Homo sapiens: one gene and its partners. The protein of the gene in region 2 interacts with the protein of the main gene of each other region in a pairwise test. Each region holds a gene or a part of one and is shown on either strand. Other genes may lie near its edges. The genes, in order: HSF2BP, MFAP1, CDCA7L, HOMER3, NGDN, GPRASP3 and ZNF41.

Region 1 (4,454 bases), on a different chromosome or scaffold from region 2:
TCACCAACCTGGTATTCAAGGTCCCAAAGTCACATCCCAACCTACGTTTAAGCTTTACCTCCCCACTACTCTATGACATTAACTCTCCACTGTGTCAACTGACCTACTCACTGTCCTAAAACAAACCCACCCATTTTCTGCCATTTCTACCTATTCATCAAGGCCCATTTCAAATTTATCCCCTTCTGTGAAGTTCCCTGACAAATGCCTGCACGCATGCATACATGTGCGTGTGCACGCTCCCACACACACACATGCTCCCACACACCCACACGCTCCCACACACACGATCCCACATACACAGGCTCACAGGCACACACACTCCCCCCCCACACACGCTCCCCACACACACACTCCCACACACACAGGCTCCCACATACACACACATGCTCCCACACACACACACGCTCCCCCCCCACACACGCTCCCACATACACACGCTCCCACACACACACACGCTCTCCCCACACACACGCTCCCCCAAACACACACACGCTCCCACACACACACTCACACAGTCTCACACACACACGCTCCCCCACACACACACATGCTCCCCCACACAAACACACATACGATCCCACATACACAGGCTCACACACACACACACACACTCCCCCACACACACGCTCCCCCCACACACACACACAGGCTCCCACATACACACACACGCTCCCACACACACACTCCCCCACACACACATGCTCCCATACACACACGCTCCCACACACACACGCTCCCCCCCCACACACACACACTCCCCCACACACACATGCTCCCACACACACACACAGTCACACACACATGCACATGCTCAAACACACATGCTCACACACACACGCTGCCACACACACACACAGTTGAACCTTGAAAACAAGGGTTTGAACTGCACAGGTCCACTTACACAAGAATTTTCTTCAGTAAAAGTTACACCAAGTGTGTCTGCTGCTCCAGCCTCCCCTTCCACCTCCTCCACCTCTACCACCCTTTAGACAGCAATGCCAACCCAACCACTCCTCTTCCTCCTCCTCTTCAGCCTACTCAATTTGAAGATGATGAGGGGGAAGACCTTCATGATGATCTAACATACAAAAAATGTGTTAATCAACGATTTATGTTGTCAGTAAGGCTTCCAGCCAACAGTAGAGAGAGTCAAAAGTTCTATGTGGCTTTTCGACTGTGCAGGGGGTCAGCGCCTCCAACCTCCATGTTGCTCAAGGTTCTGCATCTATATGTATGTGTGTGTGTGTGTATGTATAAACACACACACACATCTACATACATGTATATATGTTAGATAACACAATATTCAATAAATACTATATTAACCATGAGATAATATATATAAAAGCACTTTTGATCTTCTTAAACACATGTAAAGTATTAATACTGAAGTGGTAATATGTCCACATATACCACAAGGTCTCCTGGAGAGAAGGGATCTTATTTCATTCCCTTTGCATCAGGTTACAATGAACCATATACGATAAGTATTCAATAACTAGCTGATGAGTGAACAAAAGAAAATGGAAAGATATGGACTTAGTCTTTAAATGCCTTAATAAGCTATATGCTCTAATTTACACAAGCAGTAATCAACAATATCTGGAGAGCCCACTGACCATACTTACTCCTCCCAAAATGGCCTTGACGACTTCCTCACTGCTGGAGACACCCCACAAGAGGGTACACGCTGCTGCTCCCATTTCTGTACAATACTCTGCCTGCTGCAGGAGTTGCTGCTTCGCTTCATTCAACTGCTGTCGAAGAGCCAGTTTCTCCTAAAAGCAAAACAAAATTGAAAAATAAATAATAGCATTCAACCTTGATATATCTTTATTACATTTCCTCTTTCACAAAGATATTTATTAAAGAAATGCATGTATAATTATAGAAAATAGTTGCAAATGAAAGCTAGTCCTAAGAGAACCATAATCTGTATCTACAAAAGAAATTTCAAAGGCAAAAATATTTGAGAAATATCTGAGGAAAGAACATACTACCACATTATGGTTGATAAACCCACAGAGCTGAATTCATCTGCTTTAAGTAACTACATGAAATATCTCAAGCCCCAAGTAACTATACCCAGAACCAGCACCAACCGAGGCTTCTGAACAAAAACAACCTCACAAAGCAATTTACCCAGAAAGCAACATTTCTAAGACAGGAGACTGCCTCCTCCAAATGGCTCACTCCATTGAAAAAACGCCATCTGCCAGAGGCAGACACCAAATAAAAGGCACTTGGACATCAGGATTTGTAAAAAAACAAGTACTTTAGAAAAACTCATCCTGTATAAACGTATCCTTAACTCCTCATGAGAATATTGCCAAAGGTGCCAGTAAATATAAAATACAATCTGTGAAGCTAAACAGGGAAAGAAAACCTAAAACCTAAGACCAGGTAGGAAAGATGGGAGGAGGGGCAAAAAGAAGTGTGAAGGCTGGGAGTCCTATTCATGCCCTGGTGCAGCAAGCCAGTGCCAGTCTAAGAAGAAGATGGAGGCTAGGAAGAGTTTCCTACTCTCCCACCAGCAGTGTCTGAGGTGACCTGTAGCTGGGCAAGTCTCCACCATGGCACTCTTCACAAGGGAAACACAGGGAATGGCCGTCCTGATGGCCCTCCTGACAACACAAGCACACTTCGAGGATTCACCTTGAGTGTACTGCTAGAGTGATGGGGGGCTTCCTGTCCTCTCCAACCACCAGCACCAGGTACCTGAAATTCCCTTAAAAGGTGATAGCATTTCCTGATTTAATAAGACAAAAACTGAAAAATATAAAACCCCAGTTAAATTCATTTATACCAAATGTAATTAGTTACATAAACCACAAAATTAAAGTATATTAAATGCTGTAGATTTTCTTTTAGAGAGATAAATACAAGACAAAGTAGAGGGGGCTTTTCACCCCCTGGAGGAAAAAGGGAGCTTTGGAGCCACAAATCAAAACTGTTGACCTCATAACTTGGATTAGGGTGGCCCACTCATAGTTACCTGGAGACAATGCGTTTGGCACACAGAGATTCATACACATTCATACGTATATGCACACATGTATTTAAGAAAAAAATGGCCACTGAGCCTCTGGCACATGCTAATACTGCATCATGTGATCTGTCAGCTCCGGGTTTTTAATGTCTTCATTATAGCAACAATCTGGACTCCTAGATTCATCCTTTCAGTGTACGTAGCTGAACACAAGTCATGGTGACACATGAAGAAAACTATGTCACAGCACTTCCTTTTGGAATTCTAGCTTTTCTCACAACTTAAGCTGTCTGCATCTCAATTAGTCAGGATATGGTGGTTCTTCTGCACGACCACAAAAAGACTACTGAGAAGAACCAGGAAGGACTTTGCTCACTACAGTCACATTTGGTAGTTGCAGGAGGATATTCCCCAACGCAGGGTTCCACACATAGTATAATAATATCAAAAAAAAAACAAACAAACCTCAAAGAAAATCATAGCATTCCCAGTAACATCAAAAATAAGAATAATTTTTTAAGGTGCAAGACCTATACAATGAAAACTACAAAGCATTACTGAGAGAAAGTAGAGCTAAATAAAGAGATACACCATGTTCAAAAATTGGCAGGATGTCAATTCTTCCCAAACTGATCTACAGATTCAACACAATCCCTATCAAAATCTCAGCAGACTTCTGTACAAAGTGATAATCTGATTCTAAAATTTCTATGGAAATTCAAGACAGAATATCTAAAAAATTGTCTGAAAAAGAAGAACAATGTTAGAAGACTAACAGTGCCTGATTTAGAGGAAAAAACTAACTATAAACCTACCGAAATAGAACCATTGTGGTATTGCTATAAGGATGGACATATAGATCAGTGAAACACTGACATGTCAACTGATTTTAACAAAGGTGCCAATGCAATTCAATGGAAAAAGGATAGTCTTTTCAACAACTGATGCTAAAACAACCGAATATTCATATGCAAAAAAAAAATAATTCAAAATGAATCATAGGGCCGGGTGCGGTGGCTCACACCTACAATCCTAGCATTCTGGGAGGCTGAGGTGGGTGGATTGCTTGAGGTCAGGAGTTCAAGACTAGCCTGACCAACATGGTAAAACCCCGTCTCTACTAAAAATACAAAAGTTAGTTGAGCATGGTGGCACGGGCCTGTAATCCCACCTATAATCCCACCTACTCGGGAGGCTGAGGCAGGAGAATCGCTTGAACCCAGGAGGGGGCGACTGCAGTGAGCCGAGATCGTGCCACTGCACTCCAGCCTGGGTGACAGAGCGAGACTCCATCTCAAAAAAAAAAAAAAAAAAACAGAATCATAGGCCAGGCACAGTGGCTAATTGTACCTTGGGAGGCTGAGACGGGAGGATCGAGACCATCCTGGGCACCATAGTGAGACCCCATCTCTACAAAAAAAAAAAAAAATTTTTTTTAAATAGCCAGGCATGGTGAGGCTGA
Region 2 (4,454 bases):
TCGTGATCCGCCCGCCTTGGCCTTCCAAAGTGTTGGGATTATAGGCGTGAGCCACTGCGCCCAGCCAGATTGCAGTAACTTTTTAGCCAGTGTTGGGGAGAGGGAGTGATATCCCTTGTCTCCAAATAAAATGCATACATACACACAATTTTGTGTACAATTTTATATTTTTTTGAGATGGAATCTTGCTCTGTTGCCCAGGCTGGAGTGCAGTGGCATGATCTTGGCTCACTGCAACCTCTGCCTCCCAGGTTCAAGCTATTCTCCTGCTTCAGCCTCCTGAGTAGCTGGGATTACAGGTGTGTGCCACCATGCCCGACTAATTTTTGTATTTTTAGTACAGACAGGGTTTCACCATGTTGGACAGGCGGGTGTCAAACTCCTGACCTTGTGAGCCGCCCACCTCGGCCTCCCAAATTGTTGGGATTACAGGCGTGAGCCACCACGCCCGGCCTTGTGTACAATTTTAAAGGGCACTTAGACTCCTACTCCTACAGGTCCAGGATAAAAATCTTAGAAACTACAGGCTGAGGGCCAGGCGTGGTGGCTCATGCCTGTAATCCCAGCACTTTGGGAGGCCGAGGTGGGTGGATCACCTGAAGTCAGGAGTTCAAGGCCAGCCTGGCCGACATGGTGAAAACCCACCTCTACTAAAAATACAAAAATTAGCTGGGCGTGGTGGCATATACCTGTAGTCCCAGCTACGCAGGAGGCTGAGGCAGGAGAACCGCTTGACTCCCAGGGGGTGGAGGTTGTAGTGAGCCAAGATTGCGCCACTGCACTCCAGCCTGGGCGACAGAGTGAGACTGTGTCTCAAAAAAAAAAAAAAAACCAAAAACAAAAAATTACAGGCTGAGTATGGAGTTATCTACTGTGTGTAGCTCATACTCAGGCAAGTTTTCTTTTTTTCTTTTTTTTTTTTTTCCAGATAGAGTCTCACTCTGTCACCTAGGCTGGAGTGCAGTGGCACGATCTCAGCTCACCGCAACCTCTGCCTGCCGGGTTCAAGCGATTCTCTTGCCTCCGCCTCCCGAGTAGCTGGGAATAACAGGCACACACCACCACACCCAGCTAATTTTTGTATTTTAGTAGAGATAGGTTTTCACCATGTTGGCCAAGCTGGTCTTGAACTCTCAGCCTGAAGTGATTCGCCTGCCTCAGCCACCCAAAGTGCTGGGATTATGGGTGTGAGCCATCACGCCCAGCCTAGAGTTATCTATTGATGGTTTCCTTTGTAATCTGGGATTACCCTCTCATACCTAGTAATTTACAGGAATGAGTGATGCAGCTCAGAAATGATTCTGCTGGGGCCGGGCATGATGGCTCATGCCATAATCCCAGCACTTTGGGAGGCCGAGTTGGGTGGACAACCTGAGATCATGAGTTCGAGACCAGCCTGACCAACATGGTGAAACCCTGTCTGTACTAAAAATACGAAAATTAGCCAGGCATGGTGGCGCATGCCTGTAATCCCAGCTACTTGGGAGGCTGAGGCAGGAAAATCACTTGAACCTGGCAGGCGGAGGCTGCAGTGAGCTGAGATTGTGACACTTCACTGCAGCCTGGGTGAAAAGTGAAACTTCATGTCAAAAAAAAAAAAAAAAGATTCTGCTCTAACACAGTGTAGATTATTTAAGTGCCACAAATTCTTCCCCTCACAGTATGTATGCCCCTTTTCAAAAAGTATGACTTTGCTGCTCCTCCTCTGCAGAGGTGGAGTCTGTTTCTCCACCTGCTTAAAGCTAGGTTGGCCTTGTGACTTGCTTTGACCAGTATGTGGCAAGATCGATGTATGAGTTCTGGAACCGACATGTCAGAAGACCTTGCCCTCTTAGAATGGTGCCCTGAGACTGCTATGTAAGGAAGCCAGTCTAATCCAGTGAAGGATAAGTGAGGTATCCTAACTGATAGCCACCACCTACTACTAACATGTGAGTGAAGCCCTTTTAAGTTTCCAGCCCAGTCAACCTTCCAGCTGGATGCAACTACATAAGTAAGCCCAGGTGAAATCAGTAGAGGAACTGTTCAGCCAACCTCCAAAGTTGTGAAAAGTAATAAATTATAGTTTCAAGTCACTCAATTGTGGGTTGGGTTGTACACAAGAAGAGATAACTACTAACAGTTACTAATTTTTGTGTCTACTAGGAAACTAAAGGGAGCACTGGCTGGCACTCTATTATGGACACACATCGACAAAGTGTTTTTCTCTTCCCTGATTTCACTGTAGCAAGTGAAACTCATATTCCAATTATAGGAAACTCACAAAGCAACAAGAACTCTGAAGGTGGCTAGAATGGAACTCACAGTAGGTAATGAGTCTCAGAGCTATCCTGCTAGAAACCTGTTCCATTAGCAGCATTAACTCTAGGCTCATCTTTTTACTCACGCTTCTCGATCTTCTCTGTCCCTCTTGATTCTTTTTAGCTCTCGAACTTTCCATGCCTCATATTCCTCCTCATCATTTTCATCATCAGTATTGAGTGCATCCAATGCAGCCAGGGATCGCTTGTTCTCTTCCAGCTCTTTTTTGGTTTCCTCTTCGACAATCTGGATAGGGAGAACAATTCAGCTTGGACTTCCTTACTCTCCTCAGACAAACCTGATTACACTATTTCTTGTACTCATTCCTTGCAACCACTCCCCAGTACCTTGAGTGTGTACTTGCGCCTTTCCTCAGCCATGCGTTTTGCTTCCTGCTCCAGCTCCTTCTGTTTCAATGCTTCGGCTTCACGTTCTTGAACTGTCACTCGGTCCTTCCTGCATCACAGAGATCCTGTTAATTGCCCAAAGTCCTTAGAGTGGAGTGCTTTGTTCCCCTAGACCTAGTCCCATCCAAATCAGACAAAAACCAAACAATCTTTGGCTCTATTATTTTCAAAGAGCAAAAAACGCTGAGTCATCCCAGGTCTTTTTTTTTTTTTTTTTTTTTGAGACGGAGTCTCACTTGTCGCCTAGGCTGCAGTGCAGTGGTGTGATCTTGGCTCACTGCAACCTCCGCCTCCTGGGTTCAAGCAATTCTCTGCCTCAGCCTCCTGAGTAGCTGGGATTACAAGAGTCTGCCACCACACCTGATTAATTTCTTTGTATTTTTAGTAGAGATGGGGTTTCACCATCTTGGCTAGGCTGGTCTTGAACTCCTGACCTCCTGATCCACCTACCTCAGCCTCCCAAAGTGCTGGGATTACAGTCGTGAGCCACCGTGCCCAGCCATCATCCCAGGTCTTTAGAGGACTAAAATCATGTTCATCTTTGAGAACTGCCTAGACAGCAAAGAACCTGCTGGCCTCTAAGCAGTAGGATTTCTAGCCATCAGGAAAGGAATAGGAATTTGCTCGTTGAGTTTAATTTTGTGCTTAAAAATATATGGCCTTGGCTTGGTGCCGTGGCTCATGCCTGTAATCCTAGCACTTTGGGAGGCTGAGGAGGACGGATCACCTGAGGTTGGGAGTTCGAGACCAGCCTGACCAACATGGAAAAACCCCCTCTCTACTAAAAATACAAAATTAGCCAGGCGTGGTGGCGCATGCCTGTAATCCCAGCTACTCGGGAGACAGAGGCAGAACTGCTTGAAACCAGGAGGTGGAGGTTGTGGTGAGCCGAGATCATGCCATTGCACTCCAGCCTGGGCAACAAGAGCGAAACTCTGTCTCAAACAAACAAAAAAAGGCCTTGGACAGATATATGCTCTATTACTGAAAAAAGAGATGTGAAAACAAACTCAGGTTCTCTGCTAACGCCAAGATATTCCTCAGCAGCTAGTCTGCCAAGGGTAGAGCACTAGCAAAAGCACTTTCACTCAGCGTTTAGATTTCAGAATAGCAAGACAGAAAACAGACTTTTGTCTCCAGGCCTGGAAAGTGGTAATTAAGTGGATTCAGATCTGGCTTGTGAGATACTTACTTTCGAATGAAGACTGGCTTAAGGCGAGGCTCCATCTCATCTTCACTGTCTGTGTACTCTTCATACTCAGACTCTGATTCTGACTCCTCTCCAGAACGACCCTCATCTTCCACTTCCATGACTTCCATCTCTTCATTTTTTCTCTCCTGTGCTCGCTGACGCATCATGCCACGCCGCCGCTCTATTTCCTATCAAGTCATATATATAAGCCAGTCAGTCAAATGGCCTATGGCTTTTTGTTCGTCTCATCAAACACAACAAATTCAAATGTAAAAAGATACAACTTAGTATCATTCTATTTTTAATCCTATCCCCACAAACAAGGAACATGATCAGAGTCCTGCCAAAGCAGTGATCTCATGTTTTTAAGGCTTCAACAAATGAGCACTGGCATGAACTTTTTCTTATATCCAGAAAAAAACTTCCCATGTTCCTTTATCATACCTCATCATCAATTTCCTCCTCCTCTTCTTCACTGCTGTCTTCTCGTTCCATGCGCCAAGCATCTCCTTCTACTTCTGAGTCACTCTCTCCTACCACTTCAGGTTCCACTA
Region 3 (4,454 bases), on a different chromosome or scaffold from region 2:
ATAGCACACCAAACCCAAAGTTAGCAAGAGGAAGGAAACAAAGATTAAAACAGATATGAATAGAATAGATAATAGAATAAGAGAAAAATCAATGAAGCCAAAAGTTTATTCTTTGAAAAAAAAAATCAACAAATTGGCAAATCTTAAGCTACATGACTAGAAAATATACAGAGAAAACTCAAATTACTAACGTTAGTAATGAAATTGGACATTACTACCAATTTTACATAAATAAAAAGGACTGGCCAGGCGCTGTGGCTCACGCCTGTAATCCCAACACTTTGAGAGGCAGAGGTGGGTGGATCACAAGGTCAGGAGTTCAAGACCAGCCTGGCCAAGATGGTGAAACCCCATCTCTACTAAAAATGCAAAAAAATTAGCCAGGCTTGGTGGTGGGCGCCTGTAATCCCAGCTACTTGGGAGGCTGAAACAGAGAACTGCTTGAACCCAGGAGGCGGAGGTTGCAGTGAGCCGCTACTGTGCCACTACACTCCAGCCTGGGCGACAGAGCAAGACTCCGTCTCAAAATGAATAAATAAATAAATAAATAGGATTTTAAGAGTACTATAAACAACCGTATGCCAACAAATTGGATTATCTAGATATAATGGATAAATCCCGAGAAACAAACAACCTAGCTAGATTAAATTATGAAGAAACAGAAGATCTGAATATATTTGAAATAAGGATTTTAAGTAGTAATCAAAACCCTCCCAACAAAGTAAACCCCAGGACAAGATGGCTTCATGGGTAATTCTACCAAACATTTAAAGAAGAACAAACACCAGTCTTTCTCAAAGTCTTCCAAAAACTTGAAGAAGGAGGAACACTTGAAACTCATTCTATGTGACCAGCATTATCCTGATACCAAAGCCAGAGAAAGATACTAGAAAACTATACAGCCATATCTCTTACGAATACTGATACAAGAATACTCAACAAAATGCAGGTAAAACAAATTCGGCAGTGTAGCAAAAGGATTATACAAGATCACCAAGTGGCATTTATTCTAGGAATGCAAAATGGTTCAAACACATAAAAATCAATTAATGTAGTACACCCTATGAACAGAATAAAGGGGAAAAACAAAGATCATCTCAACTGATGCAGAAAAACATCTGACAAAATTCAACACCCTTCCCTCATCAGAAAAAAAAAAAATAGAAGGAAACTTAAACTCACCAACATAAGGCTATATACGAAAAACCCGCAACTAACAAGATACTCAATGATGAATGGAAGATTGAAAGCTTTTCCCCTAAGATCAGGAGCTAGACAAATATGCCTGCTTTTACCACTTCTATTCAACGCAGTATTGGGAGGTCTAGCCAGACCAATCAGGCAAGAAAAATAAATAACGCATCCAAATTGGAAAGGAAGAAGCAAAATTTATCTCTGCTATAAGAGACGTGATTATATATGTAGAGAACACTAGAGATTACACAAAAAGTAGTTAGAGCTAACAATTAGACATTGCAGGACACAAAATCAACACAAAAATCAACTATGCTTCTACACACTAACAATGAACAATTATGAAAATTAAGAAAACGATTCCATTTACAATGGCATCAGAATAATAAAGTACTTAGAAATAAGTTTAACCAAAAAGGCGAAAAAAGCCTTGTACACTGAAAACTACATCCCCGAAAAAATCAAGGAAGACAAGGAAATGGAGAACCATCCCATGTTCATGGATTGGAAGGCTTAATATAAGGTGACAATACTAACTGAAGCTATGTACAGACTCAATGTATTCCTTCTCAAACTCTCAGTGACTTCTTTCGTAAAAACAAAAGTCCATCCTAAAATTAATGTGGAATCTCAAAGGACCCTAAATAGCCAAAACAATCTTAAAAAAGAAGAACAGACCAGGCGCAGTGGCTCACACCTGAAATCCTAGCACTTTGGGAGGCTGAGGTGGGCAGACTGCCTGAACTCAGGAGTTTCAGACCACCCTGGGCAACATGGTGAAACCCCATCTCTACTAAAATACAAAAAAAAATTAGCCAGGCATGGCAGCATGTGCCTGTAGTCCCGGCTACTCGGGAGGCTGAGGCAGGAGAATTGCTTGAACCCAGGAGGCAGAGGTTACAGTGAGCCGAGATTGCACCACTGCACCCTAGCCTAGGTGACAGAACAAGACTCCATCCCTTAAAAAAGAAAAAAAAAAAAAAGAACAGTGTTAGAGGACTCACATTTCCTGACTTCAATACTTACTACAAAGCTATAGTAATCAAAACAGTGTGGTCTTGGCATAAAGGCAGACATATATATCAATGGAAATGAATAAAGAGCCCAGATACAAACCCTTGCATATACAGTTAACTAATTTTCAACAAGGATGCCAAGAATAATGGCAAAGAACAGTATTTTCAACAAACAGTGCTGGGAAAATTGGATTAGGTTGGACCCTTACCTTAAGCCATCTATAAAAACTAACTCAAGATGGATCAAAGATCTAAATATAAGAGCTAAAACTATAAAACTCATGGAAGAAAATACAGGGGAAAAGTTTCATGACACTGAATTTGGCAATAATTTCTTGGATATGGCAACAAAAGAAAAATAAATAAACTAGACCTCAAAATTAAAAACTTTTGTGCAAAGGGCGCTATCAAGACAGTGAAAAGGCAACCTATATAGAATGAGAGAAAATATTTGCAAATAATATCTAATAAGGGATTAATATCCAAGATATATAAATAACTCACTTAACAACTACAAAAACCCAGTTAAGAAATGGGCAAAGGACTTGAATTAACATTTCTTCAAAGAAGAGGTACAGGTGACCAACGGGCACAAGAAAAAAATTCTTAACATCACTAATCATTGGGGAAATGCAAAACAAAACCACGATGAGATACCACTTTATGCACATTAGAATGGCCATTAAAAAAAAATCCAGGAAAGAACTAGGGCTGGCAAAGACGTGAAGAAATTGGAACACTCGTGCACTGCTTATGATGATATAAAATGACACAGCCACTGTGCCAAACAGTATAGTGGTTTCTGAAAAAATTGAATTTAGTATTATCATATAACCCAGCAATTCTACTTTTAGGAACACACACCCAGAACAACTGAAAGCAGGGACTGAAGCAGATATTTGTATGCCAATGTTTATTCATTGGTATTTACAATAGCCAAAAGGTGGAAACAACCGACAACATAAATAGATGAGTAAATAAAGATGGTATGTACACATAAGAGTATTATTCAGACTTTAAAAGAAATGACGTCAGGCACAGTGTCTTATGCCTCTAATCCCAGCACTTTGGGAGGCCAAGACAGGAGGATTGCTTGAGCCCAGGAGTTCAAGACCAACCTGGGCAACACAGAGACTCCATCTCTACCAGAAATTTTAAAAAGAAAAATTAGCCAAGCAGGGTAGTACATACCTATAGTCCCAGCTACTCAAGAGGTTGCAGTGGGAGGATCACTTGAGCCCAGGAGGTCAAGGCGCAGTGAGCCACGATAGCACCACTGCACTCCAGCCTGGGCAACAGAGTGAGACCCTGTCTCAAAAGAGAAATAATTGAAAAAAAATTCTGATACATACTATAACATGGATAAACTTTAATAACAATGTTAAGTGAAATGAGCCAGTGACAAAAGGACAAATACCATATGATTCCACTCATATGAGATACCTAGGATAGTCATATCCTCAGAGACAGAAACTAAAACAGAAGTAACCAGGGGCTGGAGGAAGAGGTCATAGGGGTAATTGTTTAGTAGGTAGAGAGTTTCAGTTTAAAATGATGAAAAAGCTCATGAGAGATCAGTGATGGCGGCACAACATTGTGACTATACTTAGTAACACTGAAAGGTTAAAAATAGTACCTTTTATTATGTATATCTTACCACAATAAAAAGCCCCACAGGGTAGTCAATGTTATGTTTAAAAGAGAAGAAATAAATGGGAAGTCATTTTAGATATGTATTTACACAGGTCTTAGAAGAGCTATTCAGCAGATGAGTACCTAATGAACTGGAATTTTGGCAGAGATCCTGGGAGTGAAGTGAACCAAATCACTTGGGAAGTGTGAAGTAATTTCCTCCTCCAGGGAGGTCAGCAGATAGAACATGTGAAGCCAATGTTAAGATTTCTCTGGAGTCTAAAAGATTATCAAATTGGACAAGTCTGTTCTCAGTGTTTTCCAACAAGGTGCAACTGACGTTTTGGACAGAACAACTGCTTCATCCTGTAGGACTCTCCTGCCTGCCACATGGTACTTAATACCCCTGAACTCCAAACCACTTACCAGGGGCATTCCCCTCACCCTCATCACTCTAACAATCAAAAAGAAACCCACCCACGTTTGTTACCACGACTACCATGACCCCAGATCACTCAGATGACAACCACAGAGTGATTGAATCCAAAACTGAAATAGGAGCACCCTGGTCTGTTAGGATATGACAAGCTATAAAGCAGTAGCAAACAACCC
Region 4 (4,454 bases), on a different chromosome or scaffold from region 2:
CCCATCCCCTTATCACACACCTTGGAAGAAGGAGAGAAACTTTGAAAAATGATGTACCATGGTGGGTGGGCAGGTGGCATCAGATCACAGAGGTGGCATTTAAATACATTGGGCCACATTGAGAAAGGGAAAGGAATTCCCATGTCCTCTTTTTAGGAAAGGGTCTCACTTTGTCACCCAGGCTGCAGTACAGTGGCATGATCTCGGCTCACTGCAGCCTTGACCTCCCTGGCTCAAGTGACCCTTCCACCTTACCCCTCCACCAAGGAGCTGGGACTACAGGTGTGTGCCATCATGCCCGGCTAATTTTTTCTAGAGACGGGGTCTAGCCATGTTCCCCAGAATGGCCCTTTTCCTGTTTTTTGTTTTTTTTTTTTTTGAGATGGAGTCTTGCTCTGTTGCCCAGGCTGGAGTGCAGTGACATGATCTTGGCTCACGGCAGCCTCTGCTTCAGCCTCATGAGTAGCTGGGATTACAGGCATGCACCAGCATGCCTGGCTAATTTTCATATTTTTAGTAGAGATGTGGTTTTACCATGTTGGCCAGGCTGATCTTAAATTCCCGGCTTGAAGTGATCCGCCTGCCTCAGCCTCCCAAAGTGGTGGGATTACAGGCACAGCACCCAGCCTTTTTTTTTTTTTTTTTTGGGGGGGGACAGAATCTCGCTTTGTCACCCTGGCTGGAGTGCAGTGGCACCATCTCAGCTCACTGCAACCTCTGCCTCCCAGGTTCAAGCGAGTCTTCTGCCTCAACCTCCCGAGTAGCTAGGACTACAGGCCCGTGCCACCACGCCCAGCTAATTTTTGTATTTAGTACAGATGGGGTTTCACCATATTGGCCATGCTGGTCTCGAACTCCTGACCCCGTGATCCACCCACCTCGGCCTCCCAAAGTGTGAGAATGACAGGTATGAGCCAACATGTGGGGTCCCTTTTAATCTTTATCAGGGCTATTTCAACAAAGAGAGCCTCAGGTGGGTGCTAATCTGTCTTTAACACCTGTTATTATTCCTTTATAACAAAGAGATTAGGTCTCAGGCTCTGAGAGACATCAGAAGTCAATGAGAAAGTAATCATCTCATTCTTGTTTTTGTTGTATTAAATGTTTACATGTTTACATTTACCACCTATTTATGACAAAGCAATACCAGTTTTCCAGTTAGGATAGGATATGTTTCCCCCCACCACCCCGGTTTTAAAATAAATTTCCTTAGTTTAAAAATAATTTTTTAGGCCGGGTGCGGTGGCTCACACCTGTAATCCCAGCACTTTGGGAGACCAAGGCGGGCGGATCATTTGAGGTCAGGAGTTCGAAACCAGCCTGGCCAACATGGTGAAACCCCATCTCTACTAAAAACACAAAAATTAGCCAGGCATGGTGGTGGGCGCCTGTAATCCTAGTACTTGGGAGGCTGAGGCAGGAGAATTGCTTGAGCCCAGGAGGTGGAGGTTGCAGTGAGCTGAGATTGTGCCATTGCACTCCAGCCTGGGTGACAGAGCAAAACTCTGTCTCAAAATAAATAGATAAGGCCATGTGTGGTGGCTCACGCTTGTAATCCCAGCACTTTGGGAGGCCGAGGCAGGTGGATCATGAGGTCAGGAGTTCAAGAGCAGGCTGACCAACATGGTGAAACCCCATGTCTACTAAAAATACAAAATCAGCCAGGCATGGTGGCACATGACTGTAATCCCAGCTACTTGGGAGGCTGAGGAAGGAGAATTGCTTGAACCGGGGAGGCGGAAGTTGCGGTGAGCCGAGATCGCACCATTGCACTCCAGCCTGGGGGACAAGAGTGAAACTCTGTCTCAAAAAAATAAATAAATAAATAAATAAATAAATGATTTTTTAGGCTGGGTGCAGTGGCTCACACCTGTAATCCCATCACTTTGGGAGCCTGAGGCAGGCGGATTACCTGAAGTCAGGAGTTTGAGACCAGCCTGGCCAACATAGTGAAACCCTGTCTCTGCTAAGAATACAAAAATTAAAAAAACAAAAATTTTGTAAAAATACAAAAATTAGCCAGGTGTGGTGTGTCTGTAATCCCAACTACTTGGGAAGCTGAGGCAGGAGAATTGCTTGAACCTGGAGAGAAGAGGTTGCAGTGAGCCGAGATCGGGCCACTGCACTCCAGCCTGGCAACAGAGCTAGACTCTGTCTCCAAAAAAAAAAAAAAGACCTAAATTAGAAAGGTAAATTGTTGGGGCCGGGCGCGGTGGCTCACACCTGTAATCCCAGCACTTTGGGAGGCCAAGGTGGGTGGATCACGAGGTCAGGAGATCGAGACCATCCTGGCTAACACGGTGAAACCCCCGTCTCTATTAAAAATACAAAAAAAATTAGCAGGGCGTGGTGGCAGGCGCCTGTAGTCCCAGCTACTAGGGAGGCTGAGGCAGAAGAATCAGAAGAATGGTGTGAACCTGGGAGGCAGAGCTTGCAGTGAGCCAAGATCGCGCCACTGCACTCCAGCCTGTGCGACAGAGCGAGACTCCGTCTCAAAAAAAAAAAAAAAAGTAAATTGTCTGGGTGCAGTGGCTCAAGCCTGTAATCCCAGCACTTTAGGAGGCCAAAGTGAGAGGCTCGCTTGAGGCCAGGAGTCAAGAACAGCCTGGACAACATAGTGAGATCCTATCTCTAAAAAAAATAAGATTAAAGATATTAGCTAGGCATGGTGGCATACGCCTATAGTCTCAGCTAGTCAGGAGGCTGAGGTGGGAGGATCCCTTGTGCCCAGGAGTTTGAGGCTGCAGTGAGCCATGATTGCACTGCTTCACTCCAGCCTGGACAGCAGAGCAAGATCTTGTTAAAAAAAAAAAAAAAAAGAAGGGAGGGAGGGAGGGAAAAAAAAAGAAGAAAGGTAAATTCTAAACCTTCTAGAAGAAAACAAAGAAAGCCTGGTGTGGTAGCTCATGCCTGTAATCCCAGCACTTTGGGAGGCCGAGGCAGGTGGATCATCTGAGGTCAGGAGTTCAAGACCACCCTGGCCAACAAAATCCCATCTCCACTAAAAATACAAAAATTAGCTGGGCGAGGTGGTGGGCACCTGTAATCCCAGCTACTCCAGAGGCTGAGGCAGGAGAATCGCTTGAACCCGGGAGGTGGAGGTTGCAGTGAGCCGAGATCGTGCCACTGCACTCCAGCCTGGGGGACAGAGCAAGGCATTATCTCCAAAAAAAAAAAAAAAAAAAGAAGAAGATCTTCGTGAAAGCACTCATCATCAACAAAACCACGGATAAAGATAATAATGGAAGTATAGAGACGGCACAGGGTGCAGGGAGGTGAGGATGAAGGTATTGCTGGGGCATGTGGGAAAGTGCCCAGCCCAGCCCAGCCACCCATTTGATGTCCCAAAGAGGAGCAGGGTGTGTCCAAAATTAGAGCTACAGGCAGTAGAACTAGGACTCAAGAGCAGGTACAGTGGCTCATGCCTGTAATTGCAGCACTTTGGGAGGCCGAGGCAGGCAGATCATTTCAGGTCAGGAGTTCGAGACCAGCCTGGCCAACATGGTGAAACCCTGTCTCTAATAAAATACAAAAAATTAGCTGGGCGTGGTGGCGGACTCCTGTAGTCCCAGCTACTCAGGAGGCTGAGGCAGGAGAATCGCTTGAACCCGGGAGGCGGAGGTTGCGTGAGCCAAGATCACTGCAGCCTATCTCAAAAAAAAAACAGAAAAATGAACTAGGAATCAAACCGGGGAAGCTTAAAGGGGCTTCAGTCTCAACTCATCCTACAATCCCATCCTGCAGATGGGAAGATAGGGGACCTGCCCAAGATCCCAGAGTGAGCCCAGGAGAAGACTTGGGCCCAGTCTCATCGGTTCCCTCCACTCTCCCCCTCACCCGGCCCACCTGTGTCAGATGCTGTTCAGAGGCAAAGCCCAGGCCGTAGACTGTGTTGGCGCGACTGTCGGCCCACTGCCCGAACTTCTGGGAAGTTTTGGTGAAGGTCATGTTGGGAGTGACAGTGCTGTTGATGATGGCCTAGGGTCGGGGAACAAAGTTCAAGGTAGATGGGACAGATACTAACAAACATGAAACCCCCCAGGTATTACCTTGTATTAGGGTCTTGAAGGTCTTTACTCTGAACCCTTTCAGGAGATAGAGACTAGGGCCTGGGAAGGCTTAGGGTTTCCTGTCCCTTGGGCACACAGCAAGCCAGCCACCAGACCCAAGGTTGTCACCAGGACTCCTGGTGCCTCTGCCCCACCCAGACCCCACCCTGACCTTGGCGCCTCCGATGCTGATGATGCGGTACACATTGCGGGTGGCATCGTAGAAATAGGAGACAGTGAGTGCGTGCTTGCCCGCTGGGATCCAGTTTCGCTTGGTGGCTGGGTCAATTTGGAACACGTGCGCCCGTGTGCTGAAGATTGGCTGCTCCCTGCGTGGGGAGAGGGTGTTTGGTGGGGGCCAGGCACCCCCACTTAGAAAGCTCAGGGCCAGGCTGGGGGAGGTGG
Region 5 (3,939 bases), on a different chromosome or scaffold from region 2:
AATAATTTCTAATGCAAGGGCTCAGACCTGTGTTGGTCCTCCTGACTCTGGCGGGTAACATGGGGATGCCGAGCATCACGGATTTCCTCTGGAGCATCTGAGTACTGCTCCTTAAGTTCACGAATGACAGAGCTGCTCAATGCCCGTCTCTTGGCTCGTTCTAGACGCTTCTTCTCCCGCTCAGCTTCTGTTTCATCTACATGATGAAAATAAGCAGGGTTATCCAAGAACAGAGAAAAGAGAAACAGTTCATGCTGAGGAGGCAGCAGCCAAAGTTTATACCATAATGTACTGGAACCAAGCGTGGAGGAACATATTTCTTAGACACTCCCTTCACAGATTTCTTCCCTGAAGCCTCAGACTGGTCATCTTCTGCTTCATCTTCCTCCTCATCCTCAGAGCTCAACTACAAAAGAAACAATGTCTGCAAATTTAGGAAGCATTCATGAGATAAGTGAGAAGAAAACCCAAAGCTGGAGTACCCTGGGGTGGTGGGAATATAAAAAGGGAAAAAAGGGAATCTCAAACTCAGCATTCTAACACACAAGTTGGAAAATCAAGTCCTAAGAGAATCCCAGGGTATCCAGGATCACCAAGAGGCTCATCTAGGTATAGCTGCCTCAGAAAAAAATCAGGAGAATACTACAACCCCTTACCTTGCTCATCATATTGCTGGGATGAGGCTTAAAACGAAGTGGGTCATTCTCACCTGAAATAAATAACCCAATGAATTTTACAAAATTTGGAACTTTCTGATGGTCCCCACAACTTCATGATGGTCTCCTCACTTACTAAGGCTGCCTGTCACTGCAGTCTTGATCAGCTTGTCAATTTGATACTTCAGCTTTTGGTCCAAGGGACGAAGCTTTTCCAAAACCTACAACATGGTAGTTAATCAGGATTATATTTCCTTCCCAAAATGAAGCACACACCAGAGTCCCTATATTAAGGTGCCACATAAGGCACCTAAAATATGTACAAAGTAGAGCAAATGAATAGAAAAATACCTTTTCTCATTTGGTTTCCTTAAACATGAGAAGACTCACTTAAATGAGAGCTACTGTGTGATACCCTTGGAGCTCAAAATTTAGAAACCTAAAACTCCAAGAAGCCAAATGCTTCATACCGTGCGAATCTCCACCAGTCTCAAAACTGCATCATGTCCCTGAAGAGATCCTCCTGAGGCTTTGTCCAGAATGAGGTGGGTCAAATCCATAAGGTACATGAGCAGCAGCTGGTCTTTCACTTCCAAGAAGCTGAGACCCTGAGTTGAACAAAACAGAAAGAAAAACAGATTTGGTTTTAGCCAAAGAACCAGATGAAAGCCTAGGGTAAACGGGATGTTTTTCCAAGTTCAAGATTTTCCCAATCAGTTCATATTAGGTATCTGGAATAGTCTCAAGAAGTAGCTATGCCTAAGAAGGCCAATGAGAAAGTTATGCTAATACAAGAGAAACAACGCTCAGAAAATTAATAGAAGACAATGAGAAGAGGAAAATCAATAAACTACCCCCCCAAAAAAGACTATAACAGGGTTTCTCAATCTCAGAGCTATTGACATTTGAAGCCAGAACATTTTTTGTTGAGGGCTGTCCTGGGCATTGTAGGTTTCCAGCAGCATCCTTGGCCTCTTCCCACGGATGGCCCCTCCAAGCTCTAACAATCAAAAATGTCTCCACAGACTGCCAAGTTTTAAATTAATTTAATCAAAGTAATTACCAATTTCCCCCCATACAATGGAATTATATGATACAGGTAAAAACAATGATTTATATATAATGACATCGAATTAAATCCATGTCACCACAAGTTGTAGAAAGTGTAATATGACTTCAATTGTGAAAGTGTGTGTGTGTAGGGGGGGATATGATGAATACATTTTATACACATAGAAAAATGTCTACAAGACAACACACAAGTAACTGCTACCCCTAGGGTGAGATGAGGAAAAGGAAGAAATGGTGTACTTTAGAGTGTGAAAAAGTGTTGCATATATTATTCTTATAATTTTAAAAATCTCAAAAATATTACCACAGTGGTTATCTCAGAGTGGTGATTATACTGATTTTTCATTTTTTTCTTTGGGCTTTTATGTATCTTCCAAACTTCACAGCCCTGAGAAAACCTATTTCAGAGAGGTTAAATACTTGGCCAAGATAACACAGTAATACAAGTAGAGCTAAGATTCAAACTCAATCTGACTCCAACACCTCATCCCTGGATGTCTTTAAGCCAACATGCTAAGCTCTTGAGATCAACACTACTGTGGTATAGAAGGAGAGCAAAGGATTTAGAGTCCACAAACTGAGTTTAAGTTCTGAATTAGGTGTTTGGTAGTCAAATATTGAGTAAGTCACTTAACCTTGTGACCTCAGTCTTTTTTTTTTTTTTTTTTTTGAGATGGAGTCTCACTCTGTCGCCCAGGCTGGAGTGCAGTGGCACTGTCTCGGCTCACTGCAACCTCCACCTCCTGGGTTCAAGTGATTCTTCTGCCTCAGCATCCCAAGTAGCTGGGACTACAGGTGCCTCCCACCACGCCCGGCTAATTTTTTGTATTTAAGCCAAATATTCTATGGGTAAATACAAGTATGAAAATCATTGTTAATAAGAGTCACTGAAGGAGTTTTAAGCACAGGAGTTATAGCAGATTTGTGCTTACAGAAAGATAACTAAAAACAGCATTCAAAATATATTCCCTTCTTGTCTTTATCATTCACTTATGTTCTTACTGTCCATTTTTATTTAAAAAAAATTTAAATCTTTGTTTAAGATTTAAGAGACGGGGTTTCGCCATGTTGGCCAGGCTGGTCTCGAACTCCTGACCTCGTGATCCACCTGCCTCAGCCTCCCAAAGCACTGGGATTACAGCCGTGACCCACTGCACCAGGCCAACCTCAGTCTTATCAGTAAAATATGTACATTTCCTCCCTGCCACAAAGAATAATTATGAGGCCCAAATAAGATAATGTGAAAGAACTTTGTAACCTATAAAGCACCTAGTAAAAGTCTTTGGTCAAAAAGATAAGTTAATATGTATTTGTTCAATAAATAAACAAATATATAGGGATCTAAGAAGGATGCTGGCAACTCATCCATCTCCAAAAGGCACTGAAATGGTTCAAGGCATGGTACCCAAGGCCTGGTGTGGTGGCTCACACCTGTAATCCCAGCACTTTGGGATGCCGAGGTGGGTGGATCACCTGAGGTCAGGAGTTCGAGACCAGCCTGGCTAACATGGTAAAACCTCGTCTTTACTAAAAATACAAAATTAGCCAGGAGTGGTGGCGGGCGCCTGTAATCCCAGCTACTCGGAAGGCTGAGGCAGGAGAATCACTTGAACCCAGGAGGCAGAGGCCGCAGTGAGCCAGGATCGTGCCACTGCACTCCAGCCGGGGCGACAGAGGGAGACTCCATCTCAACGAAACAAAACAAAACAAAAAAGCATGGTACCCAGGACAAAAACAGGTAAGAATTTGAGAAGCAGGCTCTTCCGACGTGCTTGGGCATTGTCAAATTCAAACTGAGCTACAAGCATATGAGAGAAAAACAAAGATTTAAATTTTTTTTAAATAAAAATGGACAATAAGAACATAAGTGAATGATAAAGACAAGAAGGGAATATATTTTGAATGCTGTTTTTAGTTATCTTTCTGTAAGCACAAATCTGCTGTAACTCCTGTGCTTAAAACTCCTTCAGTGACTCTTATTACAATGATTTTCATACTTGTATTTACCCATAGAATATTTGGCCTAAATATCTTAGGACAAAAGCTCAATATATAAAAACAGATAATACCAGAGTTTTCCAGTTAAGTAGGGATGAGAGATCCAGAGTTGTTCTTCCACATTGCCCCCAACCAGTAATCCCTGAGAAGGTTCTACCAGACCTTCATTTGAAAACTACAATATTTTAATTGTTGTTGTTTTGTTTTTTTCAGA
Region 6 (5,031 bases), on a different chromosome or scaffold from region 2:
TGGTTGTGATTGAACTTAATACCTAGCCCCACTACCTTCCCTGAAGGTTGAGCTGGCCCAAAGTTCCAACCCTTTAATCACATGGTTGGTCCTTCTGGTGACCAGTCCCCATCCTGAAGCTATCTAGGGGCCCACCATAAGTCACTTCATTAGCATAACAAAGATACTCCTGTCACACAGGAAATTCCAAGATTTTTTGAAGCTGTGTCAGCAACTAGGGATAAAGATCAGCTATATTCTCTATTATACCACACCATACTTGAAGTCTTCTCTGTTGACATACTCGAAAAAACACACAGAGACAAGAGACAAGACAGCTTGAGTAGAAAACCATAAGCTGAATGCTGGCCCCAGTACTTATATTATCAGAATTCTGGAGAGTAAAGAGAAGAAAATAATAGGAGAGGGTAGGAGACGAGGATGCAGTCCTAGGGACTAATCTCTACCTATGATTTTGCCCCACATACCTTGTATCTATCCTAGCTTTTAAGTCTAAATAGGAGGGCTTAAAGTAGTAGAACAACATAGTTTCAACTCTATAAACTTGGTATAAACATAAGGATAGGAGTGGGATTAGAAAAAGTCATTTCTTCCTAGCAACACTTTCTTACACTGACTTTGTATGTATTGTGATATATGAAGAAATCAGCATTTGATCTTTTTTATTTTGATTGAAATTTGAAATGAGTTATTTTTAAAATTTTTTAAAATTTTTAATTCACATGGATATGCAATATTTGTACATATTTATGGGGTATAAATTATATTTTGATATAAGCATAGAATGTGTAATGTAATTGAGATATACATCACCTTAAATATTTATCATTTTGTTGCACTGAGGACATTCCAAATCTATTCTTCTAATTATACTGAAATATATAATAACTATTGTTAACTATAGGCACCCTATTGTGCTACTGAACACTAGATCATATTCCTTCTAACTGTATTGTTGTACCCATTAACCAACTCCTTTTTATACCCCATCCCCAATACCCTTTCCAGCCTTTGGTAACCATAATTCTTTGTCCCATATTCCTGGCATAGAGCTCCTAGAACCCTTGCTATTTCCTGATAGGGATAACGGAAGCATCTTTTGTTACATGTGGCTTTAGTCTCAAGTTCTTGACACTAAGACCCTTGGAATCTCTGGAGTGATAGGTGTCTTTTTTTATGTTCCGAGATGACTGGTGGGTGCACTAGATAGCTTCAAGATATGGATGGTCACCAGAAAGACCAAGGCATGATTAGAGGGTTGGAACTTTCAGCCTCACCCCTTGACCTCCAAGGAGAAGAGAGGGGCTGAAGATTGAGCTAATCACCAATGGTCAATGATTTCATCAATCACGCCTATGTAATGAAACCTCTATAAAAATCCCAAATGTCTGAGAGGTTCCAGGTTGGTGAACTCATTCATATTCTGGGAAGGTGGTGTACCCCAAATCCACATGGATGGCAGCTTCTGCATTTGGGACCCTTCTGGACCTTGCCATATGTACCTCTTCATCTGGCTTTTGATTTATATCCTTTATAATGAACCAGTAATAGGAAGTAGTGTTTCCCTGAGTTCTGTGGGCCCTTATAGCAAATTATTGAACCTGAGGAGGGGGTTGTGGGAACTTCCAACTAGTAGCTAAGTCAGACAGAAGTGTGGGTGACATGGAGATCCATTACTTGTGACTGTTGTCTGAAGTGAGGGAGGGCAGTCTTATGGGAATGAGCCCTTAACCAGAGAGGTCTGCACTAACTCTGGGTAGTATCAGAATTGAATTAAATTGTAGAATACCTAGCTGATGTCCTCAAAGAATAAGAGAATTGCTTGGTGTGAAAAATCCACACATTCTGTGCCAGAAGTATTGTGGGTAGAGGAACCATTTTCTTTCACTTGGTACCCAGTGGGTGCATGGGGTAGGGGGAAAGGAGGATACTCGATGTGAAAGAGGACAAGGACTTACCATGGGGCTGCTACCTAGGATGGGACCAAAGAAACACATCCTAAGGAATGAGCAGAGATCACAACACAAGAGAGCAAAGGGTATGCAGAGGGAAACTTAGGAGACTATCCATGAAGCAGTTTCTGTAGGTGGTCCCCAGAAAGACCCTCCTCTGAGGCCCAAGACAGCAGGGAGAGAGAGCTCACACGGAGTAGCAACCCACTTTGTGTCCCTCAATGGGAATGAGATCCTGCTGCATGGGGCTGAGATCCAGGAATCCCCTTGGGGGTCGAGAAGCTTGGAGTATCCTAATGAGAAATCCTAGGTGAAGGGCCCACAGCATCTAGGTTTCCTCCCCTCGAGTCTATGTCTCCTCCTCCTTTTCCTAGAACTGCCGGGATTGAGGTTCATTCCTCTCTTGCATCCCCAGCCAGCTGGAGCCTTGGAGCAAAAGGCAGATGTATGTGTTCTCTTCTGCCCTCCTCCACCCTCCGCCAGTTTTGAGCTGGTATCAGCCATCCCCACTGCCTGAATACTGCCAGTAAGAAGACAGAGAGTAGAATGAGTGCGGACGCATAGCTCACGGTTCCCATCCCCACCCCTGCCTTTCCTGATCCAGCACCACAGGTGTTCACGAATTGTCACTTCACCATTTCCCCGCTCTGGGCTCCCCTGAAGCCAACTCCATCCATATGCCCACCTCCCCCACCCACACATACAAACACAGGGCACTGGGCTGGGAGCCTTGGGATGAGGGGTCAAGGGTGTTCAAAAGGCAGGAGGGAGCAGGCGGATCTGAGGCATTACCTGCACCCGCATCTAGTCTCAGTCACCACCTCTCAGGGATGCCATCTGCCGTCCTTGCACCCACCTCCTCCAACAGCAACCGCTGCTCCTCTCCACGAACGCGTCGGGCAGGTAGACTCTCTGCTTCTTGAGCTCCTGGACAAAAGACAGACGGGCTAAGACGCTCCCGGTTGGCTGACGGATTGTTTCCTTTACCAACAAATGCTGTAGTTCCAGTCGCCTGAGAAATTAGTTTTCAGGCTGATGCAGCATGGAAAGACACCTACCTACCTTAACATCCCGCCGTTCCTCCCACGTTCTGCTCTGCGGAGCACAGGTGTCGTCCGCCTCTCAGGTCTTTTCTGGATGCAAGAAAACACTCCTCTCGGCAGGCCTAATGCAGAGCCTGGTCACATGACCCACCGTCAGCCCCACGTGACTGCGCAGTCAGCTTGTTCGCCGCAGTCCTGTACCATGGATGACAGTCTTCTGCCTCTGGGGTGCTTGCTAGAAGATCCTGAAGCTCCTTGGCCAGACAGCTGGAAGGAAGGCTGGCCTTTGCTCTGGAGGACCACTCGGCTGGCGAGGAACATTCGATGAGGATTTGGGAAATGAAGTGATTTTTAATATTTTGTATACGACTCAAGCGACATACTAAAACACACACAGATCTGTCTTGAAAAATGCTGGTAAGCAAAACAAACATTCAAACTCCAATTTGCACCACCAGGATAATCCCTGTTAAAACTTATGGCTTGCGATGGGAGGCAAAACTGCCACTTCCATATTACCTTACCAAACTAGGATCAGGTGGGGAAAAAAAGCATGTTGCACTGTCAGAAAAATTATACCAAACTTAGATAAAGTCACCTTCAGTTACTGGATGTCATTTCAGGGCAGTGCAGGATGTCTATTGATTTACCTATTTTTCAACTCTGTAGACACTGATGTTAACATGTAGATATTTTATTCAATAAATATGTAAATGATTTATGTCCAGTGCAATAGAAAACCTTAAATGTTACAATTTATTGCCCTGTAAGATATTAACCCGTTTTATATTTAACCTGGCAGTGTTATTCTAACATTTATTAATTTCCTATGTGTTTATGAAATTCAATGTTTTGTTTATATCTTCATATTGTGTATATTGTATATACACATATACCCTTCAACTGTTTTCTTAATCCTAGCAGTTGTTGATTGTGTTGAAAAATCTTTCACATATTCTTTTTACATTTACATGAATTGTAATTTTACCTTTGAAAATTTAGAACATTCTCAGACAAATAAATGTTATGTCTAAAAATAATAAAACATTGGATATTTCTCGTACGTCTGAATTTCCTCTCCAAACCAACATATAGCCCTGTCTTCCAATTCTCCTGACTGAAGGTATTGTGTGGTCATTTTTTAAATTATCGTGGCAAAATACACATAACATAAAATTTAACATTTTAACCATTTTAAAGTATACAACCCAGTACATTATCAATGTTGTACAACCATCACCACTATCTAGCTCCAGAACTTTGTTGTCACCTCAAAAGGAAATGTTATGTTTTTTACGGTAATAATTATGTGAAAAAGGTGCCATTTTTGTACCATGAACAGACTAATATTAAACTTAACACCCTTGGTAATTTTTTTTTTTTTTGAGACGGAGTTCTGCTCTGTCACCCAGGCTGTAGTGCAGTGGTGCGACCTCAGCTGACTGCAACTTCTGCCCCCCAGGCTCAAGCGACTCTCCTGCCTCAGCCTCCCCAGTAGCTGGGATTACAGGCGCACACCACCATGCCTGGCTAAGTTTTTGTATTTTTACTAGAGACAGCATTTCGCTATGTTGGCCAGGCTGGTCTCGAACTCCTGACCTCAAGTGATCCACCCACCTCAGCCTCCCAAAGTGCTGGGATTACAAGCGTGAGCCACCGCGCCTGGCCCACCCTTGATTATTTTATTTTATTTTATTTTTTTTGAGACAAGGTCTCACTCACATCACCCATGCTGGAGTGCAGTGGTGTGACTATGACTGACTGCAGCCTCAACTTCCTAGGCTCAAGTGATTCTCCTACCTCAGCCTCCTGAGTAGCTAGGACAAGTGCGTGCCACCATGCTGGGCTAATTTTTTTTATTTTTAGTAGAGACAAGGCATCAATATGTTGCCCAGGCTGGCCTTGAACTCTTGAGCTCAAGCAATCCTTCCGCTTCGGCCTCCCAAAGGGCTGGGATTACAGGTGTGAGCCACTGTGCCTGGCCAATTTTAATTTTTATCTTGAAAACGTTTTATAAAAAGCTAGTCTTTCTGATA
Region 7 (4,454 bases), on a different chromosome or scaffold from region 2:
TCTACTAAAAATACAAAAATGAGCTGGGTGTGGTGATGCGCACCTGTAATCCCAGCTACTTGGGAGGCTGAGGCACGAGAATTGCTTGAACCCGGGAGGCAGAGATTGCAGTGAGCCGAGATGGCACCACTACGCTCCAGCCTAGGCAACAGAGCGAGACTCTGTCTCAGAAAAACAAACAAACAACAACAACAACAAACACCCACAGAAAGAGAGGAAATACATGCAAATCGCATATGTGACAAGGGACTTCTATCGAGATTATCTAGAGAACTCTTACAACTTGATAATACAAAGACAATTCAATTTAAAAATAGGCCAAGGATTTGAATAGATATTTCTTCAAAGAAGATATACAGATGGGCAATAAGTACAGGAAAAGATGGTCAACATCAGTGGCCACTAGAGAAATGGAAATCAAAACCACAAGATACCACTTCACACCTACTAGGAAGGATAGAATTAAAAAGACAATAAGCATTAGCAAGGATGTGATAAACTGGAACCCTCATACATTGCTGCTGGGACATAAAGTGGTGCAGCCGTTTTGGAAAATGGTTTGGCAATTCTTCAAAATGTTAAAAATAGAAGGCTGGGCGCAGTGGCTTATGCCTGTAATCCCAGCACTTTGGGAGGCTGAGGCGGGTGGATCGCTTGAGGTCAGGAGATCGAGACCAGCCTGGCAACATGGTGAAACCCCATCTCTACTAAAAGTACAAAAATTAGCTGGGCATGGTGGTGGGTGCCTGTAATCCTAGCTACTTGGGAGACTGAGGCAGAAGAATCCTCAGCCTCCTGAGTAGCTGGGACTACAGGCACGCGCACCACACCCAGCTAATTTTTGTATTTTTAGTAGAGATGGGGTTTCACCATGTTGGCCAGGCTGGTCTCGATCTCCTGACCTCATGATCCGCACGCCTCGGCCTCCCAAAGTGTTGGGATTACAGGCGTGAGCCACAGCACCCGGCCTTTTTTTGGAGACTGAGTCTCGCTCTGTCACCCAGGCTGGAGTGCAGTGGCACGATCTCTGCTCACTGCAACCTCTGCCTTCCGGGCTCAAGCGATTCTCCTGCCTCAGCCTCCCAAGTAGCTGGGATTACTGGCGCCCGCCGCCACGCCCAGCTAGTTTTTGTATTTTTAATAGAGATGGTGTTTCACCATGTTGGCCAGGCTGGTCTCAAACTCCTGACCTCAGGTGATCCACCCACCTCGGCCTCCCAAAGTGCTGGGATTACAGGCGTGAGCCACCGTGCCCAGCTGGAATGCCACATTCTTACTATCAAGGCCAGGAAATTGAGAGCAAGAGAATTGTGTACAGATCTTATGAAAAATAACTTTTTTTCTTGGAGAAATAAGCCAAAAAAATTTTTTAAAACTCTTATGTTTTAAGCCTCCCCACATAACTGAGTTGCTTTTTCACAACTTAAGTATTCTTTGTCCAATCCAGTATATAAGTGATTGACTCTAACTACTACTTTGGGTCTTCATTTCTTTATGAAGGCTCCTGTGCCACATAAAACTTGTATTAAATAAATCTGTACACTTTTCTCTGTTGATCTGTCATATGTCAATTTAACTTTCAGGCCCAGACAAAAAGAAATCCTAAAAGGGAAGAGGTAAATTTCTACCTCACTCCTTATACCAGTCATTCCACTCCTGGGTATCCACCCAAGAGAAATGAAAACATATGTCCATACAAAAACTTGTACGCAAATGCTCATAGCAGCATTATTCATAATAGCTAAAAAGTGGAAACAACCCAAATGTCCATCGACTGATGAATGGATAAACAAAATGTGGTGTATCCATACAATGAAATATCATTCAGGAATAAAAAGACATGAAGTACTTCTAAAATAAACTGATAGAAACAGATAGTAGAATGGTGGTTGCCAGGGGCTGAGAGGAGGGGGTAATAAGAAGTTGCTATTCAACGGGTTAAAATTTCAGGTATACAAGAGGGAAGTTCTAGAGATTGGCTGTATATTGCACCTATAGTTAACAGTACTGTATTGTGCACTTAAAAATTTAAGAGAATACGCCACATGCGGTGGCTCACACCAGTAATCCCAGCACTTTGGGAGGCCGAGGCAGGTAGATTACTTGAGGTCAGGAATTCGAGACCAGCCTGACCAATATGTTGAAATCCTGTCTCTACTAAAAATACAAAAAATTAGCCAGGTGTGGTGGCACGCACCTATAGTCCCAGCTACGTGGGAGGCTGAGGCAGGAGAATTGCTTGAACCTGGGAGGTGGAGGTTGCAGTGAGCCGAGATCATGCCACTGCACTCCAGCCTGGGTGACAGAGCGAGACTCTGTCACAACAAAACAAAACAAACAAACCAAATTTAAGAGGGTGGCTTTCATGTTAAGTGTTCGTACCACAACAAACAAAATAATAAAAGGAATAAGGTCCTAATACATACTATAACACGGATGAGCTTTGAAAACATTAGGCTAAGTTAAAGAAAACAATCATGGCCGGACACAGTGGATCATGCCTGTAGTCCCAGTACTTTGGGAGGCTGAGGTGGGCGGATCACCTGAGGTCAGGAGTTCAAGACCAGCCTGGCCAATGTCTCTACTAAAAATACAAAAGCTAGCCGGGCGTGGTGGCAGGCGCCTGTAATCGCAGCTACTTGGGAGGCTGAGGCAGGGAGAATTGCTTGAACCCAGGAGGCGGCAGCTGCAGTGAACTGAGATCCGGCCACTGCACTCCAGCCTGGGCGACAGAGTGAGACTCTGTCTAAAATAAATAAATAAGGCAATCATAAAAGACCACGTTTTATGATTCCATTTATATAAAATGTCTAGAATAGACCAATCTATAGAGACAGGAAGTAAATTAGTGGTTGCCTGTGGCTAGGGGTGAGGGTTGGGAATGAGGAATGATTGCTAATGGGTACGATGTTTCCTTTTGGGATGATAAAATACTCTAAAATTAGATTGTGATGATGGTTGCACAATTCAGTGAATATGCTAAGAACTGCTGAACTGTAAGCTTTAAATGGGTGAATTTTATGGTAGATGAATGATACAATAAAGCTGTTAGAAAAAAAAAATCATAGCTAGTAAGTGCCAAGCAGGGTTGCAAAGCCAATGTCTGGCAAGGGGTAGGTATTCAATAAATGTTTATTGAATAGATTAATGAATAAACACCTTTCACATTCAAATAAAAAATGCCCAAGTTATTTTCATTAACATTAGCAACAAGATAGCAAATACCCTCTATTAAATGTCACTCAACATTGTTCTGAAAGCTCTAACTAGTGCAACAGAAGATGAGGTGATCAGAATAAATATTTGAAAGGAAGAGACAGTATCATTTTTAATTGGATGGAATACGATAGCTAGGAAAAGTAAGAGACTGTAAAAAGCAACTACATTCATATGATAATTTGGTAATTGGATTGAATATGAAATAAAATTATAAAAATAGATTTTCCCTATGGAAATAGAAAAAAAATATGCTATTCACAATGATGATAAAAACAAAGGTAAAATATCTAAGGATGAACTGTTAAAAAAAAAAAAAGGTGTTGGACCCATAAGAAAACTATAAAAATTATAGTTTTAGTGGTTATTTTTGAAACTAGATAAAATAGTTTTAACATTTACATGGAAGAATAAGGCTGGGTGCGGTGGCTCATGCCTGTAATCCCAGCACTTTGGGAGGCCGAGGCACGCAGATCACGAGGTCAGGAGTTTGAGACCAGTCTGGTCAATATGGTGAAACCTCGTCTCTACTAAAAATACAAAAATTAGCTGGGCAGGGTGGCACGCGCCTATAGTCCCAGCTACTTGGGAGGCTGAGGCAGGAGAATTGTTTGAACCCGGGAGGTGGAGGTCGCAGTGAGCCAAGATTGCGCCACTGCACTCCAGGCTAGGTGACAGCAGAGCAAGACTCCATCTCAAAAAAAAAAGAAGAAGAATAAACGCACAAGAAAATTAATTAAAGCAACCAAAAAGAAAGCAAGGGGGACTAGTTCTACATGATGTTAAAACTATTTCTAAAGTCAATATGATTTTTTAAAAAGGAGTAGATACATATATCAGAAGAACTAAACAGAGTTCAGAAATAAAACAATACACATTTGGGAACTTATGTGACAAAAGTGACATTTAATTGAATTAGAAAAGGGTATTCATTTAACGACTGGTGCTGGAAAATTAGCTATCCAAATGGAATATACGAACTGATTCCATCTCATACCATACACCAAAATAAATTCCAGTTAGATTAAAATTTAACTTTAAAAAATTGAAATAAATATATTAAAAATAAATTTAAGGCGTATTTGTTTGAACATGAAATGAGGAAGTCACTAGGCAAGACAAGACACTCAGAACCTGTAAAGGAAAAAGGCAGATATATCTTAATAGATGATTTTTTAAAAATCAAATGTGAAGACACCTTTCAAAGTCAAAATATAGAGATAGAGGAAATATAGTTA

What was found.
Region 1: the proteins of MFAP1 (region 2) and HSF2BP interact in binary tests that used the Homo sapiens proteins (3 or more experiments, as listed by UniProt).
Region 3: the proteins of MFAP1 (region 2) and CDCA7L interact in binary tests that used the Homo sapiens proteins (3 or more experiments, as listed by UniProt).
Region 4: the proteins of MFAP1 (region 2) and HOMER3 interact in binary tests that used the Homo sapiens proteins (3 or more experiments, as listed by UniProt).
Region 5: the proteins of MFAP1 (region 2) and NGDN interact in binary tests that used the Homo sapiens proteins (3 or more experiments, as listed by UniProt).
Region 6: the proteins of MFAP1 (region 2) and GPRASP3 interact in binary tests that used the Homo sapiens proteins (3 or more experiments, as listed by UniProt).
Region 7: the proteins of MFAP1 (region 2) and ZNF41 interact in binary tests that used the Homo sapiens proteins (3 or more experiments, as listed by UniProt).

Annotation. Positions count from the first base shown.
Region 1 is NC_000021.9:43,631,641-43,636,094, forward strand, and holds part of HSF2BP (heat shock factor 2-binding protein), read right to left. Parts: intron 1,782-4,454; coding exon 1,632-1,781; coding exon of another isoform or gene 1,623-1,631; intron 1-1,622. UniProt on the Homo sapiens protein: Meiotic recombination factor component of recombination bridges involved in meiotic double-strand break repair.
Region 2 is NC_000015.10:43,810,601-43,815,054, forward strand, and holds part of MFAP1 (microfibrillar-associated protein 1), read right to left. Parts: coding exon 4,345-4,454; intron 4,089-4,344; coding exon 3,901-4,088; intron 2,758-3,900; coding exon 2,649-2,757; intron 2,548-2,648; coding exon 2,387-2,547; intron 1-2,386. UniProt on the Homo sapiens protein: Involved in pre-mRNA splicing as a component of the spliceosome.
Region 3 is NC_000007.14:21,935,484-21,939,937, forward strand, and holds part of CDCA7L (cell division cycle-associated 7-like protein), read right to left. Parts: intron 1-4,454. UniProt on the Homo sapiens protein: Plays a role in transcriptional regulation as a repressor that inhibits monoamine oxidase A (MAOA) activity and gene expression by binding to the promoter.
Region 4 is NC_000019.10:18,934,507-18,938,960, forward strand, and holds part of HOMER3 (homer protein homolog 3), read right to left. Parts: intron 4,379-4,454; coding exon 4,222-4,378; intron 3,979-4,221; coding exon 3,847-3,978; intron 1-3,846. UniProt on the Homo sapiens protein: Postsynaptic density scaffolding protein. Binds and cross-links cytoplasmic regions of GRM1, GRM5, ITPR1, DNM3, RYR1, RYR2, SHANK1 and SHANK3.
Region 5 is NC_000014.9:23,472,496-23,476,434, reverse strand, and holds part of NGDN (neuroguidin), read right to left. Parts: intron 1,265-3,939; coding exon 1,127-1,264; intron 878-1,126; coding exon 793-877; intron 710-792; coding exon 657-709; intron 407-656; coding exon 283-406; intron 197-282; coding exon 28-196; intron 1-27. UniProt on the Homo sapiens protein: Part of the small subunit (SSU) processome, first precursor of the small eukaryotic ribosomal subunit.
Region 6 is NC_000023.11:102,718,805-102,723,835, reverse strand, and holds the start of GPRASP3 (G protein-coupled receptor associated sorting protein 3), read right to left. Parts: upstream 3,094-5,031; 5' UTR 3,011-3,093; intron 2,880-3,010; 5' UTR 2,745-2,879; intron 2,473-2,744; exon of another isoform or gene 1-2,472. UniProt on the Homo sapiens protein: Survival and differentiation promoting protein that plays a role in the regulation of neurosynaptogenesis. Induces phosphatase PP2A activity which results in APP dephosphorylation and inhibits BACE1-mediated processing of APP.
Region 7 is NC_000023.11:47,476,185-47,480,638, forward strand, and holds part of ZNF41 (zinc finger protein 41), read right to left. Parts: intron 1-4,454. UniProt on the Homo sapiens protein: May be involved in transcriptional regulation.